4 linked regions of the Homo sapiens genome follow. The protein of the gene in region 2 purifies or fractionates together with the protein of the main gene of each other region. This does not show direct contact. Each region holds a gene or a part of one and is shown on either strand. Other genes may lie near its edges.

What was found. Proteins that work in one complex are often made in the same cells at the same time.
Region 1: the proteins of MGME1 (region 2) and LUZP1 purify together in Homo sapiens (affinity purification with mass spectrometry; 2 studies listed by BioGRID and IntAct, with this or other methods). This does not show direct contact.
Region 3: the proteins of MGME1 (region 2) and SFXN5 purify together in Homo sapiens (co-immunoprecipitation; one large-scale study listed by IntAct). This does not show direct contact.
Region 4: the proteins of MGME1 (region 2) and THNSL1 purify together in Homo sapiens (affinity purification with mass spectrometry; 2 studies listed by BioGRID and IntAct, with this or other methods). This does not show direct contact.

Annotation. Positions count from the first base shown.
Region 1 is NC_000001.11:23,158,857-23,162,858, forward strand, and holds part of LUZP1 (leucine zipper protein 1), read right to left. Parts: intron 1-4,002.
Region 2 is NC_000020.11:17,985,582-17,989,388, reverse strand, and holds part of MGME1 (mitochondrial genome maintenance exonuclease 1 isoform 2 precursor), read right to left. Parts: intron 1,224-3,807; coding exon 1,091-1,223; intron 1-1,090. UniProt on the Homo sapiens protein: Metal-dependent single-stranded DNA (ssDNA) exonuclease involved in mitochondrial genome maintenance. Has preference for 5'-3' exonuclease activity but is also capable of endonuclease activity on linear substrates.
Region 3 is NC_000002.12:72,942,713-72,946,714, reverse strand, and holds part of SFXN5 (sideroflexin-5), read left to right. Parts: intron 1-1,615; coding exon 1,616-1,693; 3' UTR 1,694-4,002. UniProt on the Homo sapiens protein: Mitochondrial amino-acid transporter. Transports citrate. Does not act as a serine transporter: not able to mediate transport of serine into mitochondria.
Region 4 is NC_000010.11:25,019,110-25,023,111, reverse strand, and holds part of THNSL1 (threonine synthase-like 1), read right to left. Parts: intron 1,371-4,002; 5' UTR 1,204-1,370; intron 1-1,203.

The sequences.
Region 1 (4,002 bases), on a different chromosome or scaffold from region 2:
TTCAGGGGGCTGAGGCAGGAGAAGCCCTTGAACCCGGGAGACAGAGGTTGCAGTGAGCTGACAGAGCAAGACTCCATCTCAAAAAAAAAAAAAAAAAGAGATGGGTTGGGGGTAAGAGAAGAAGTAATCTCAGTTTAGCTTATCACATTCTGTTCTAATCATTTTGACTACAGTTTACCAGAGACTTCAAAATTTGATTACTGGCCAGGCACGGTGGCTCAGGTCTGTAACCCCAGCACTTTGGGAGGCTGAGGAGGGCGGATCACGAGGTCAGGAGATTGAGACCATCCTGGCTAACATGGTGAAACCCCATCTCTACTAAAAATACAAAAAAATTAGCCAGGCGTGGTGGCGGGCACCTGTAGTCCCAGCTACTCGGGAGGCTGAGGCAGGAGAATGGCGTGAACCCGGGAGGCAGAGCTTGCAGTGAGCCGAGATCACACCACTGCACTCCAGCCTGGGCTACAGAGCGAGACTCTGTCTCAAAAAAAAAAATTTGATTACTGCTCCCCTCCCAAAGATAAAAATCTAGCATAGAATTAATTCATGCCAAAGATGTCACTAACTGGCATTCTTTTAAAAAACCTCAGTATCTGACCCTCAACAGCTTGTGACACTGGATATCTAGCTTCTGTGTGTACCAGTTCCTCATCTGTAAAATGGGGTTAAAATAATAAACTATATACTTACTTCATGGGTGTGGTGAAGAATACATGAGATTATGAGCTTGAAACATGATAGGTACTCAATAAATATTTGTTGAGTGAATGAGTAAATAAACTAATGTATGAAAAATGCTTAGGATAGTGCCTGTCACATAGCCAATGGCTAATAATATCAGTATCACGCCAGACGCGGTGGCTCATGCCTGTAATCCCAACACTTTGGGAAGCCAAGGCAGGCGGATTACTTGAGGTCAGGAGTTCGAGACCAGCCTGGCCAACATGGTGAAACCCCTGTCTCTACTAAAAATACAAAAATGAGCTGGGCATGGTGGCATGCGCCTGTAGTTCCAGCTACTCGGGAGGCTGAGACAGAAGAATCGCTTGAACCCAAGAGGTGGAGGTTGCAGTGAGCCAAGATCACGCCACTGCACTCCAGCATGGGCAACAAGGGTAAAATTCCGTCTCAAAAAACAAAAACAAAAACAAACCAATTACTACATTACCCTGTAATATTCTGATGTAGTTTCATCAGAAAAGCCAAAATAATCACTGATTTAAAATACACAGTAGGTACCTCCTAAAAACTAATTTAAATTTACCACTTAATTTGAAATATGTACTGAGTTAAATCAACTAAGTTGCTACTAATTTAAATTTGCATTTAAATTGGCTTATAGAACATTCTTCTGCCTTTAACACAAGAGGAAGAGTAACTACTGAGAGAGCTTACCCATCAGACAAAGCAGCTTTAAGCAGATTTAATTGGCTCAAGATTTGCTTTGTTGACATCAAAATAAAATGTTAGTCAACAGAAAATTCAAATAAAGTACTACCTAGTGTCTTGTTTCTGTTAGTAATTCCAATCTGAGAACATTAAACAAGCACTGATAAAGCATTTTTTCTAAGAAGGAACTCTGCATAGTTAATTCTACACCAGTGACAAGTTCCAAAGGAGAATCTGCTTTGTGGCATTAGGACTGGACTCCTGTACTTTCACACCCTAATAGTCTCTATATCGCCGGAAGCAGTTGGTGCACTCCCGGCCTTTAGATTAGAGAAAATACTAAGCAGGATTCTAATAAAAAGAATCCAAGTTAATAAGCTTAAGAAATTAAAATTGCTACCTATACATAAATATCATTGGTCATCAAAAACTCTACTAAAGACCTACTATGTGCCAGTGAAAATAACTGAGGAGGGCATTAGCTAAAACAGCTTCTGATCGAGAAGCTTCCAGTCAAATTAGCTAATTAAGATATTAATAGAAGCTGGTCAAGTTAACCAAAAATATGAGGGGTACTGGCATAACAAGCTACAAGATTTCTGAGAAAATAAGAAGCTTTTGATACAACTAGGTAAAATAAGATATGTGATAGTGTGATTTTCCATGAACACAAGGTGGTACTGGCAATAAATGCTATAAAATTTTAGAGAAGAAAGATTAACTGTTGCAAAACCATGATAGACTTCAAAGAGGGAGAACTGAGCTCAGTCTTGAGGGGTGGAAAAGATTTAAATAGTTAAACAGCATAAGAGGAAAGGACAAAAGATAATGGGACCAAAGGTGCTGAATTGGGAATATGGCCATTAAATATTTATTAAATACCTACTCTATGTCAGTCACTGTGTTAGGCACTAGAGATACACTGGAGAACAAAACAGATGAGTTCTCTGCTTTCATGGAATCTAGCAGGGAAGACATAATAATCATGCACGCAGATATATAATCATAAATTGCAATAGGTGCTATGAAAGGAGGCAACAGAAGCCAGTAATAGGGAATAATGGGAAAGGACTAGCAAGACACGATGATGAGAAAAAGTATCCCTGATATTTATACATAAGCTCAGGCATGAAGGCAGCCATGCAAAGAGCAGGGAAAAGAAGTGTTCGAGGAAGACAGAGCCATGCATACAAAGGCCCTGAGGTAGGAAACAGCTCACTGAGTTTAAAAATAAATAAGGCCAGTGGCTCATGCCTGTAATCTCAGCTACTCTGGAGGCCAAAGGACAGCTTGAGGCCAGGAGTTTGAGACCAGCCTGAGCAATATTGTAAGACCCCATCTCTAAAAATTAAATAAAATAAGAATAAAAATAAGAAGTTAGCGTAACAGAGGCATAATGGGCAATGAGATTGGCATAAAATGCCAATTGCCTACCCGAAAAGTAGCCAGGAGACGGGCTATACAGGGCATTATAGGTCAAAATAAAGAACTGAAATGGCCAGGCACAGTGGCTCACGCCTGTAATCCCAGCACCTTGGGAGGCTGAGGTGAGTGGATCAAGAGGTCAGGAGTTCATGGCCAGCCTGGCCAACATAACATGGTGAAACTCCGTCTCTACTAAAAACACGAAAATTAGCCAGGCGTGGTGGTAGGCACCTTTAATCCCAGCTACTTGGGAGGCTGAGGCGGAGAACGGCTTGAACCCAGGAGGTGGAGGTTGCAGTGAGCTGAGATCGCGCCACTGCACTCCAGCCTGGGCGACAGAACGAGACTGTCTCAAAAAAAAAAAAAAAAAAAAAAAAAAGCTGAAATTTGAATTTTATTCCAAATCTAAAAACCACTAAAAATTTTTGCACGGTCACATTAGTGTTAAATAAAAGGAGCCAGACCACAAACAATATATACTATATGATTCAATTTTTACAAAAGTACAAAAAAAGAGCAAAATAATCTATGCTGTCAGAAGTCAGGATGGTGATTACCCTGGGTGGTAGAGGGGAGACAGGAACTGAAAGGGAACTGGATAGGGGCTTCTAGGTACTGGTAACGCTGTTTCTTGATCTAGATCTAGGTGCTGCTTACATGGGTATATTCAGTTTGTGGGAAAAAAACATCAAATTCCACTTTTACATGCATTTTTCTGTATATGTATTATATACTTCAATCATAAAGTTTTTAATAACGTAATATACTTTTATTTTTTTTTTTTTTGAGACGGAGTCTCGCTCTGTTGCCCAGGCTGGAGTGCAGTGGCGTGATCTCGGCTCACTGCAAGCTCTGCCTCCTGGGTTCTCGCCATTCTCCTGCCTCAGCCTCCCGAGTAGCTGGGACTACAGGTGCCTGCCACCATGCCTGGCTAATTTTTTGTATTTTTAGTAGCCACGGGGTTTCACCATGTTAGCCCAGCCCATAATACATTTTTAAAATACTATTTTGTCCAGATAAAAACAGGAATAGAGTGCTCACTTCCACAACACAAATACTAAAATTGGAATGGTACAGGGAAGATTAGTATGTGCCCTGCACAAGGATGACATGCTAATTCATAAAGCAGTCCATATTTTTAAATTTTTTTGTAAAAATAAAGAAACAAACGGTATAAAGGGGCACATG
Region 2 (3,807 bases):
GGAGAGAGACAGTCTTGCTCTGTTGCCCAGGCTGGAGTGCAGTGGAACAACCTTGGCTCACCGCAACCTCCGCCTCCTGGGTTCAAGCGATTCTCCTGCCTCAGCCTCCCAAGTAGGTGGGACTAGAGGCACACACCACCACGCCCAGCTAATTTTTGTATTTTTAGTAGAGACAGGGTTTCGCCATGTCAGCCAAGCTGGTCTTGAACTCCTGACATCAGGTGATCTGCCCAACTCGGCCTCCCAAAGTGCTGGAATTATAGGCTTGGGCCACCACACCTGGCCTATTTATTTATTTTTGAGACAGGGTTTTGCTCTGTCGGCCAGGCTAGAGTGCAGTGGTACAATCTCGGCTCACTGGAACCTCCACTTCCTGGGCTCAAGCAATCCTCCCACCTCAGCCTCCCAAGTAGCTGGCACAAGTGTGCGCCACCATGTCCAGCTAATTTTTGTATTTTTTTTGTAGATACGGGGTTTCACTATGTTGCCCAGGCTGGACTCAAACTCCTGAGCACAAGCAATCTGCCTGCCTCGGCCTCCCAAAGTGCGTGAGCCACTGTGCCCAGCCAAAAAGTGCTTTTTTAAGTGGGAAAGGAACAAGGAAGACGTTAAGCAATGGGATAAAAATAGAGATTAAAAAAGGAAAAACCTCAAGGAGTTCTATTTTTTAACTTTTTTTTTTTTTACAATTTTTCTCCTCCTACCCCCCCACTGAGAAGTTTTTTTTTTTTTTTTTGAGACAGATTCGAGATGGAGTCTCACTCTCTTGCCCAGGCTGGAGTGTAGTGGCGCAATCTTGGCTCACTACAACCTCCACCTCGCGGGTTCAAGCAATTCTCCTGCCTCAGCTACTAGAATAGCTGGGATTACAGGCATGAGCCACCATGCCCAGCTAGTTTTTGTATTTTTGGTAAAGACAGGGTTTCACCATATTGGCCAGGCTGGTCTTGAACTCCTGACCTCAAGTGATCCACCGGCCTTGGCCTCCCAAAGTGCTAGGATTACAGGCATGAGCCACTGCGCCCGGCCCGGAGTTATAGTTTTAAGTAAGCATTGAGCAAAGCTTTAAGTAAAGGCTCAGTGTCCTGACCTGAAAGCTGTAGTTGGTATCATGGTTCATGGCACCCATGTATGCCACAACTTGCAGTGGGTTGTCAAATGTACTTTGAATAAAAGGCTTTGGTTTCTCTGATGTCTTCCAATCAATCACACAGAGCTTGCCCCTAAAGAGAAACCACAGGAAGACTTTGTAGGTAATAGATCACAATGAAAATCTCTACTAGGTTAACAGTTCTCTTATGTATAGTTTGTTACTTGTCAGCCAATGACCATTGCTCTTATTCACCATTTTTTTCCTTTTTTAAAAAAGAGATGGGGTTTCATATGTTGCCCAGGCTAAACGCATACTCCTGGGCTCAAGTGATCCTCCCACCTCAGCCTCCCAAGTAGCTGGGACTATAAGTGCACCCCCCCACTTTTTCTCCCTCTTTTTTTGCATCAAATAACCAGTGGATTCCTCCCCCCATCCCCTATCCTGGTCGGGTTTATACTTGCCAAATGCAAATATCAAAAGGATACAGAGAGTGGACCAGTAACTGGTGACTCTCAAAGGACTCTATCGGTTCAATCTGTCTTTCATGACTTCAATTTCAAAATCAGCAGTTTATAGGGAGATTTTGTACAAAGCATGTATATTACTTACATGTCACTATAGCTCTAGACAGTTACACCTCATGCAAACTCAGTCTAGAGCAGCACTGGCTAAAAGAAGTAAAATGTGAGCCATGTGTCATTTTAAATTTTCTAGTAGCCACATCGGAAAAGAAAAAAAAAATACAGCTGAAATTTTAACATTTTACTTAACCCAACATATCCAAAATATCATTTCAACATGTAATCAACTAACAAATGATTAATGGGATATTTTACGTCTTTTTTTTATTATAGGGATATTTTACATTCTTTTTTGTACAAAGTCATTGAAATGTAGTTTGTATATTGCTATAGCACACCTTAGTTTGGCCTGACCACATTCAAATGCTCAATAGCTATAGGGGTTAGTGGCTACTCTACTGGACAGTTTAGGTTTAGAGATAATTTTATTGTCTTCAGAATTGTTTTGTAATATTGCCAAGTTTGACAATCTGTGTAGTTGAGAAAAGGGCCCCAGTAACTCTAGGATGCCATTCCTGGTTCTTCTTTTTTTTTTTTTTTTTTTAGATGGAGTCTCACTCAGGCTGGAGTGCAGTGGTGTAATCTCGGCTTACCACAACCTCCGCCTCCTGGGTTCAAGCTATTCTTCTGCCTCAGCCCCCTGAGTAGCTGGCATTACATGTGTGCGCCACCTCGCCCAGCTAATTTTTGTATTTTTAGTAGAGATGGGGTTTCGCCCTATTGGCCAGGCTGGTTTCAACTCCTAACCTCAAGTGATCCACCCGCCTTGGCCTCCCAAACTGCTGGGATTACAGGTGTGAGCCACCATGTTATATTTCTGCCACAGAACACTGTTTGCAGCAATGTACTGTAATTGTAGAACTTAATAAATGTAAAAAAAAAAACCTTAATAGCATTCTGAAAACTATAAAATATTGATGAAAGAAACTGAAAATGATACAAATAAATGGTAAGATATCCTCTGTTTATGGACTGGAAGAATATTGTTAAAATGTCCATACTATCCAAAGCAATCTATAGGTTCCACGCAATCTTTATCATAATTCCAATGGCAGGCCAGGTGTGATGGCTCACACCTGTAATCTCCAGCACTTTGGGAGGCCAAGGCAGGTGGACTGCTTGAGCTCAGGAGCCCGAGACCAGCCTGGGCAACATGGTGAAACCCTGTCTCTATAAAAAATACCAAAAAATCAGCCAGGTGTTGTGGCTGGAGCCTGTTGTCCCAGCTACTCAGGAGGCTGAGCCCAGGAGGTGGAGTTTGCAGTGAGCCGAGATTGCACCACTGCACAACAGCGTGGGTAACAAAGCCAGACCCTGTCTCAGGAAAAAAGAAAAAAAAAAAATTCTGCCGGGCACGGTGGCTTACACCTGTAATCCCAGCACTTTGGGAGGCCAAGGTGGGCAGATCACCTGAGGTCAGGAGCTCCAGACCAGCCTGGCCAACATGGTGAAACCTCGTCTCTACTAAAAATACAAAAATTAGCCAGGCGTGGTGATGTGCCCCTGTAATCCCAGCTACTCGGGAGGCTGAGGCAGGAGAATTACTTGAACCTGGGAGGCAGAAGTTGCAGTGAGCTGAGACTGTGCCATTGCACTGCAGCCTGGGCGACAAGGGTGAAACTCTGTCTCAAAAAGAAAAAAAAATTCCAACATCATTTTTCACAGAAATAGAAAAAAAAAAATCCTAAAATTAACACGGAACCACAAAAGACTCCGAATAGCCAAAGCAATCTTGAGTGAAAAGAATGAAGTCGGAGGCATCACACTGCCTGATTTCAAAGTACAGTCATGTGTAGCTTAATGACAGGGATATGTCCTGAGAAATGCATGGTTAGGCAATTTTGTCATTGTGCAAACATAGAGTATATTACACAAACCTAGGTAGGATAGCCTACTACACACCCAGACCTTTGCTCCTAGGCTACAAACCTGTACAGCATGTTACTGTACTGAATACTGCTGGCAACTATAACACAATGGTAAGCATTAGTGCATCTAAACACAGAAAAGGTACAGTAAAAATGTGGTATAAAAGATAAAAAACAGTATACTTGTATAGGGCACCTACCACGAATGCAGCTTGCAGGACTAGAAGTTGCTCTGGGTGATTGAGTGAGTGAGCGGTGAGTGAAT
Region 3 (4,002 bases), on a different chromosome or scaffold from region 2:
CAGAGTCTTTGGGCAGAGCACCACTGGATGGCGGCGTCATTCCCGAGATGGAGAGCTGAGTGGGGCCAGGGGAGAGGGCAGGTTCAGTTCCATTTCAGGTGGGTTGAGTTCAGGCGCCTGTGAGACATCCACAGCAAAGTTTGGCAGGCAGGCGGCTGTGAACCTGAGGCTCCAGGGAGAAACAAGGCTGCAGAAATCTTGTGTGGGGGTAACCCAGGGCATGTGCAGAGAAGAGGGCCCAGCCAGACCAAGCCCCAAGGACCCCGAGGAGCATGCAGTGGGTGTCGTGAAGTGGGGGGTGGCAGTGACCTTGGAGAGAAAGATTTTTCTGGAGTGTGGTGAGAACAGAAGCCAGATTTACTGTGGGTTGAAAAGTCAGTGGGAGGGAAGGAGGTGGACACAGCCAGTGTAGACCAAGTTTTTTAAAGAAACGTGGCTGCTGGGGAGGAGAGAGACCAGGTAGTAGCTGGGCCTGCCTTGGGATGAAGGGGAGGTGTCATCAGAGAAGGTTCCTGCATGTGGAACACTAACGGGCAAAGGTGGGAGAGAGGGAGGATGACCCAGGAGGGGGCCCCGGAGTGGGCAGGGGAGGTGGAGCCAGGTGGGGTCCTGTCCTGCGAGGGGAGGGATGGCAGCTGTGGGGTGGGAGGAGGGCAGGTGGAAAGCCATGCATGGACACGGAAGGCAGCGGGTTTGATGATGGGAAGCTGAGGGTTTCGCCTCTGACACCTTCAGCTTTTTCCCTAAATAAGAGGAAGTGTCACCTGCCCAGGATGCGTGGGAGCAGGGGGTGGGTGGCCAAGGAGAGGAGAGCAGAGCAGGTATCCAGTGGCCTCTGGAGAGTGGGCGAGGGAGCTGACCTGGCTATGGGGGCAGGGGTGGGGTGGTTGTCTGCAGTGGTTGGGGGTCCAGCCAAAGTCAAGGACAGGGAATTTTGAGGGTCTCCATTACATGGTCAGGTTCAAGTAGGAGTGGGGTGCATGGTGGGGTTCTCCGAAGCAGGGCTTCTGCCAGCAGCGTGGGAGGGACCCTTGGGCTAGGGAGTAGCTGAAGGGATGGCCCCTGGAATCGGGACTGCAGGGGAAGATGTAAAGACTGAGTGGTCGGAGTGTGGAGTGTGGGCGCTTAGGTCTAGGGGACTGGAAACAGAGAAGCAGGAGTGAGTGGGGTGCTGGAAGGACAGGCGACTGAGGAGCCCAGGAGGGTGGGGTTTGGATGGAAGGAGTTGAGGTGGAGCAGCCCTGGGTGGTCATCAGGTCCAGGGAATGGCCCTGGGCAGGGCTGTGGTAGGTCTGCAGTGCAGTGGACATGGTTCTTGGGGGTGAGGGAGATGCAGAACTCAGAGGCCAGTGTGTAGGATGTCCACCCACGTGGACACACCATCAGAAGAAAGAGATCTGGTCTGGGCTGGAAGGGATGCTGTGAGCCCCGCGGCGGGAGGGCGGTGGAGAAGGAAGATGTGTCACTAGGTAGGGCATGTGAGCCCTGGCTGGGGTGGACACGGGGGTGCAGGGGGCAGAGCTCTGGGGCCCAGGGTGGTCCTCACTGCAGCTCCCAGCCCCACTATTTGCCCCTTCCCACTCCCCCACTTTTCCTCTCTGTTCTCTCTCCACAGATTGAAACATCCCAATTAGAGCCGGAGATAGCCCAGGCCACGAGCAGCCGGACAGTGGTGTACAACAAGGGGTTGTGAGTGTGGTCAGCGGCCTGGGGACGGAGCACTGTGCAGCCGGGGAGCTGAGGGGCAGGGCCGTAGACTCACGGCTGCACCTGCAGGGAGCAGCACGCCAACCCCAGCAGTCCTGGGCCCCCTGGGAGAGTGCTCAACCTACAGTGGAGGGAGACTGACCCATTCACATTTTAACATAGGCAAGAGGAGTTCTAACACATTTCGTACAAAAAAATAATCAAGTGCATTTCTGGGCCTTATGTGGGGTTGTCAAAACTCCACTCAGCACAATTATGTGTGAAGCTGAAAAATTGTAGAGTGCCCATGGGGTAGAAGTAGAATCCTTTTATACTTTGGTTCCTTTTTTATTTTTATTTTTTATCAGAATCAAATCTGAGCCTTAGTTTCAGCTGACCAGAAGTGGCAGGAGGACAGGTGGAGGCGAGCCAGATTAGGCCTGGAGTTGGGCTGGTTTGGTGGCCAGGCTGGTAAATTTAGGATATTACAATGGCCAGCCCAGATGGCTCCCTGGGCTGGCATGGGGAGGGGAGAGAAGGTGGTCTGCACCCCACAGGATGAACTAGCCATGACTAGGGTCCTCAGGCAGTGGCCCAGGGAATCAGGGAGCACTGGAGGCCTCTGCAAGATTCTGTGGGCAGCTGGCTCTGAATGTAGCCAGCCCACATCCATTCCAGAGCTGCAGAACCAGTCCCTCTGAGTGAAGTCCAGTGACCCTGGAGCTAGGGTCCCCCTTCGTGGAGCTCTAACTGATTCAGGGCCCCTGAAGTGACCCCAGCTCCAGGCAGGAAACCCCGAGAAGGAATGGTGCTTGGCAGGAACCATGGACCTGCACTTGGCCTCTTCGGGAAGATCCTCCTTCCAGGCCCCAGGCTGGATGCTGGGTTCTGGGGCTGAGAGTGGGGCTAGACTGGGCTGGCTGCCTTCTGCGGAGCTTCTCCAGCCACCAAGGCTGCCTGCCCCATCCCATCCCTTTCTAAGCAGGAAGGTCTCATGCCTGAGAATGCCTAGGCCAGCTCCTTAGACACCTATCAGAGAAGCAGCATCAACCTAGGAGCAGTGGGCCCTGGCTCTGTCACTAAATGGCAGTGAGATGTCAGACAAATTCATTCCCTTCTCTCAGCCTCCACTCCCTGTCTGAAACCAGAAGACTGGATCAAGGGGTTCCCACTGGCTCCTCCAGCAAGACCTCGTCTTTGCTTGTCCTGCTCAGATGCTGGTCATCCTGGGCATGTCCCCAGTGTGGACTCTGGACTGGGAAGGGGGCAGGCCCCTTTGGACCTGCAGTTGGCCTCAGCAGAAGGCCTTGCCTTGTGTATGTGACTCCATATCCCGGGAGCAGTTGACCTTTGCCAAACACTTTACAGTTCTGGAGGAGGAGGTAACATAGATGCCTGGGCCTGATGGTGGGGCCATACCCATGTGTCGCCTCTCACTCTGGCAGCCTCAGAGGCCCCTTGCTGCTGGCTCCCATCTCCCTCCCATTTGCAGACCAGGAAGGAAGAGCAAGCTGTACAAAGGGAAGCAGAGCCTGGGGTGGGTGTGAGCAGGGTGACCCCTCATCTGAAAGGCCCAAACCAGGGGGAAGCACCAGCCTCAGTGCAGCCCCCTCCTGACCCCACCTAGAATGGAAGCCTCCACCTGCAGCCCCAGGCCTCCCTCCCCCGGGGTCTCCACCTCAGGGGAGACTTAGGCCAGAGGTGAACATTCATGTGTAGGAAGAGGCCGCTGCAGGGTGGCATCTTAGGGTAGGGGAAGTGTGCTGAGGTGGGCCTTCCATGGGCATGGCCGTTGCCTCTCTGCCAGCCGCTGGTGCCCACCAGCTGGCTCTGCAGCACATTGCCCTGAGGGGCCTGCCACTCTCCTGAGGAGCAGCCCACCTGCTGCCCGTGAGGAGGGGGAGAAGGGTTAGACAAGCCTGGAGGACAAAACAGCGGGAGTGTGGGGGTGCCATGGTGTTGGAGGGGCAGGCCTTTTTGAGCCAATCCCACCATAATGTGAATATGCCAGTGACTGCTGCGCTGTGCTGGTCTCTAGGCCTGAACTAGGTGCTGGCATGTCTGGGTCGTCTTTTGAAAAGCTCACTTCAAGCTCACCCTGCTCCTACCTATCATAAGGTCTTATTCTTGTGCACTTTATCTTGGGACCAAAACTGCCTACCCACCCCTTCCCGCCCTCCCCCTGCCAGAGGCCTGGTGCCCTGGCCCAGCCTGTGGCCTCAGCATCTCATAACTCATTTGCTTTGTCTCCCGGATGATTTCCGTCATGCTCCCAAATGCAGCTTCAGGTGAGCCAAGGGGTCTGCTCCTGTGGCG
Region 4 (4,002 bases), on a different chromosome or scaffold from region 2:
TGTTAAAATCCCAATAGGACTGAATATAACCATGCCCATGGTACATAAACTGTTTAAAAATCTTCCAAACTTATGGAATTAAAAAAAGTATTCCAACCCAAATTCTTATATATTGCATATTATCCTTTTAATGATATCTTTTAAAATCTCAAGACACTGAAAAATCAAAACTTTGACAAAATTTGTAACTATAAAAAACAGAAACTTGTATTCACAAAGTGCCAGATTGTAGATGCTTTTAAAAGTATATATACACTAAATCAAATTACTATTTCTTTTCATATTGAGATCTTTTAATGAAAATTATTTCATGGTTTATCAGTTTATATCACATATAAAGATGATTTGGAGTTGGAGTGCTATCTACTTGCAATTCACAAAAGTTGAACAATATTCTTTATATTTAATTTCTCTTCAGTTATATGAACATTGTGACAGACTATATTACTCATAAATTTCTTATAGAAGTCATAACAGGAAACCAGAATAAAAGAACATATTTGCTTATAAAATGCTTAGTTTTCCAAACTACAGGACAAAGGTATGACATTTTCTTTCTTATGTGCCTTTTACACGCATATTAAGAATCATTGTTACATATTATTCATATTGAAGGCTTTAAAAAGAGCCAAGGTGAAAGGTATATTATACAAATAGTTAAGAAAAATTAATAATCAGCAATGAGGTCAAAGGCTACATATAACCTTATCTGCACAGAACCATCACTTTTGTTTCTAACCCTATAATCATCAGTGGAGAGATTTAACTCAATTTCCAGACCCCAGGGCCACAGCCAAGAACCTCAGGAATGTTTCCAATGATGAGAGACAACAATTATTCTGGCATCCAAAGAAGCTCTATAATTTCCCATATTGACCAAGTCCTTGTCTTTGGAAATATACTCACCATTAAAACAAAAATGTATGCCAGACAAGTCAAGTTTTTAGTTACGTAAAATGCAGTATAATACCTGTGCAATGTTCATGTAAATTGCCTGAAGTAATGTCACAGACACATAGTGGGGCTTATCACGTGTTCTCTGGTAGAAGCAATATGCAACTAAACCATATTAAATACTAGATCATATGTTAAAATATGTTCTGAAAACTTTTAATCATGTAATACTGACTTTCTATGCTACTTAAACTCTGTTCTGTAATTAAACATTTAAATGATTTTAAGCTAACTCTGAATTTAACTTACAAGTAAAATTAGAGCCGTCAAGGGAGGTAATTCATTTCCTTATTTGACTTTTCAATTTATATGTGTTGTGCTTAATTTCCACTGACTTGTAAACATAGGACACACCGGAACCAATCTGAAGAGTTTGTTGACTCTGAGGCAAAACCGATCTTTGCAAAACGTGGAGTCTATAATGGAAAAAAATTTAAGTTAATCATAACTGTATAGAGTATCATAAAATTCTACACATAGACTAGTCTATTATTTGAAAAGCTCATCTGAAATTTTAAAAATACAGAAAAATTGACCCTTTTCATATGTTTCCCCAAATCTGTTATTAGAAGATTAAAATACTGTTTTTAAACATGTGTGTCTCATTATAAAAAGAATTTCACTAAACAGTACTGAAGGAATTTCTACCATCAAGCAATAAAAAACCAAATAATAACAAATATAAAACTTTTCAGAAGGATATCTGGAATTTTAATGATTTGGCTGTATAATGATCAGAGGGGAAAAAGTCAGCAGACTAAAGCTATGAAATTAGTGTCTGAGTTGTTTTTTAGGCTATATTATCTATCAAAATCACTATATATTCATATGTAATAATATCCACTATAAAAAGCCCAAATAAAACTCTTGCCACAAAAAGATACCTCTTAGCTATATAAGTGTCTATAATAAAATCAAAGCACATATCATAGTGGTTAGCACAAAATATTTACAGTAAGATTAATCATTGTCACTCACTGACAGTGGGCTAGGAATATATAAATTGAACCCAAATATGTAGGTACAAGGCAGGGTGCATTTTTTTTATGGTTTGGTTTATAAACCTTCAGAGAATACCGTGGTGTTCACCCACGAATCAAGAACTGTTTTGCCATGCACAGTCTAATCCTTTCCCTGAAGTAAACCAGGGACCAGAAAGAATTATATACTTGAACCATAACATCAATTTATTTTATTAAACCATATTCTGGTACTGGACTTTAAAAGCACAAACTGCTTTTAGGGCACTTACATAAAACAGTCTGATTAACCTCCTATTCAGGAAGCTTTTGCTTGTAACATTACAGTTTCTTCTTTTTGAGTTTGCAATACATAACTTTCTGATACCTGTATTAGTAATAATTGTATATAATCTGAGTAGATGGTTTTCATGAGCAGTAATTTTTTTTTTTTTTTTGAGAAAGGGTCTTCCACTGTCACCCAGGCTGGAGTGCAGTGGCATGATCTCAGCTCACTGCAGCCTCAACCTCCTGGGCTCAGGTGATCCTCCCACCAGGTGTGCATCACCACACCCAGCTAATTTTTGTAGGTTTTCTAGAGACAGGGTTTCACCATGTTGCCCAGACTGATCTCGAACTCCTGAACTCAAGCAATCCTCCCACTTTGGCCTCCCAAAGTGCTGGGATTAGAGGCATGAACCACCATACTGGCCCAGTAAATCTTTCATCTTTTCTTCCGCTTTATATTGCTTGCTACCATGCTTAACATCAACTTCATTAAAAGTAGATTGTAAGGAAACATTATGTTACCTTCACCTTATGTTTTGCAATCTTACTTTTCCTATATGTTAGTTCCCCTCTACCCTCTTGTTTTTAAATTTTACTTCACTTCCCTTTTTCAAGACTTTGGGGTAGATATATATAGATATAGATATAGATATAGATATAGATATAGATATATTTTAAAGAAAATTATGACAGTTCAATTTGTAAATTCTGTATCAATATTATTTCCCACAAACATGTTCCTTAGACTAGCAGAAGGCAGTTAAGTGCTATAATATATATTATTTCTAAAGAACAATAAAGATATATTCTATTTTAAGCTACATACTAAATTTTATTTTGTAACATTTAACCACAAATTGATTTTAGGGGCTCAACATTTTTTAACCAACCAAATGAGGAAAAGACATCCTCATTTCTTTTTTGAGAACGTCTGCTGCAATGGCCACTCGGGAATATACATAGAAGGCATATATATGGACTTCACCAAAGCATTACACATGGTTCATTTAAAATTTTTTTAATTCACGGAGAAATGGAAAAAAAAGATTTGAGGATATTGTTGAATGATCATAAAAATGGTTCTGTTGAATAGAGGGAAATTTCTGGTAGTGCACTCCAAGGCTTTTGGTCTTGACACTCTTCTCTTTCATGTGTTTAACAATTATTTGGATTAAGCATTGAGAGGGATATTGGATAATTAGCAGTTAATAGGACTGACTTTAGAGTGAGAAAAATCTGCAGATGTGCAAGTCCTTTATATAAAATGGTGTAGTATTTGCATATAACCTGTGCACATCCTCCTGTATACCTTAATCTCTGAATAACTTATAATACATAATACAATGCAAATGCTAGGTACAGAGCTGTTGTACTAATTTGCTTTTTTGTTTGTGGTATTTTTACTGTTCCATTATTTTCGTGTTTTTGTTTGTTTTTCAGACAGGCTCCCACTCTGTTGCCCAGGCAGGAGTGCAGTGGCACAATCTTGGCTCACTACAGCCTTGACTTCCTAGGCTCAAGCAATCCTCCCACCTCAGCCTCCCAAGTAGCTGGGACTAAAGGCACGCACCACCACACCCAGCTAATTTTAGTATTTTTAGTAGAGAGGGGGTTTCGCCATGTTGCCCAGGCTGGTCTCCAACTCCTGGGCTCAAGCAGTCTTCCTGCCTTGGCCTTCAAAAAGTGCTTGGATTGCAGGTATGAGCCACTGTGCCCAACTAAAATTTTAAAATATTTTCAATCTGTAATTAGTTGAATCTGAGAATGGGAAATTCACAGATATGGAGAACTAACTGTGTAT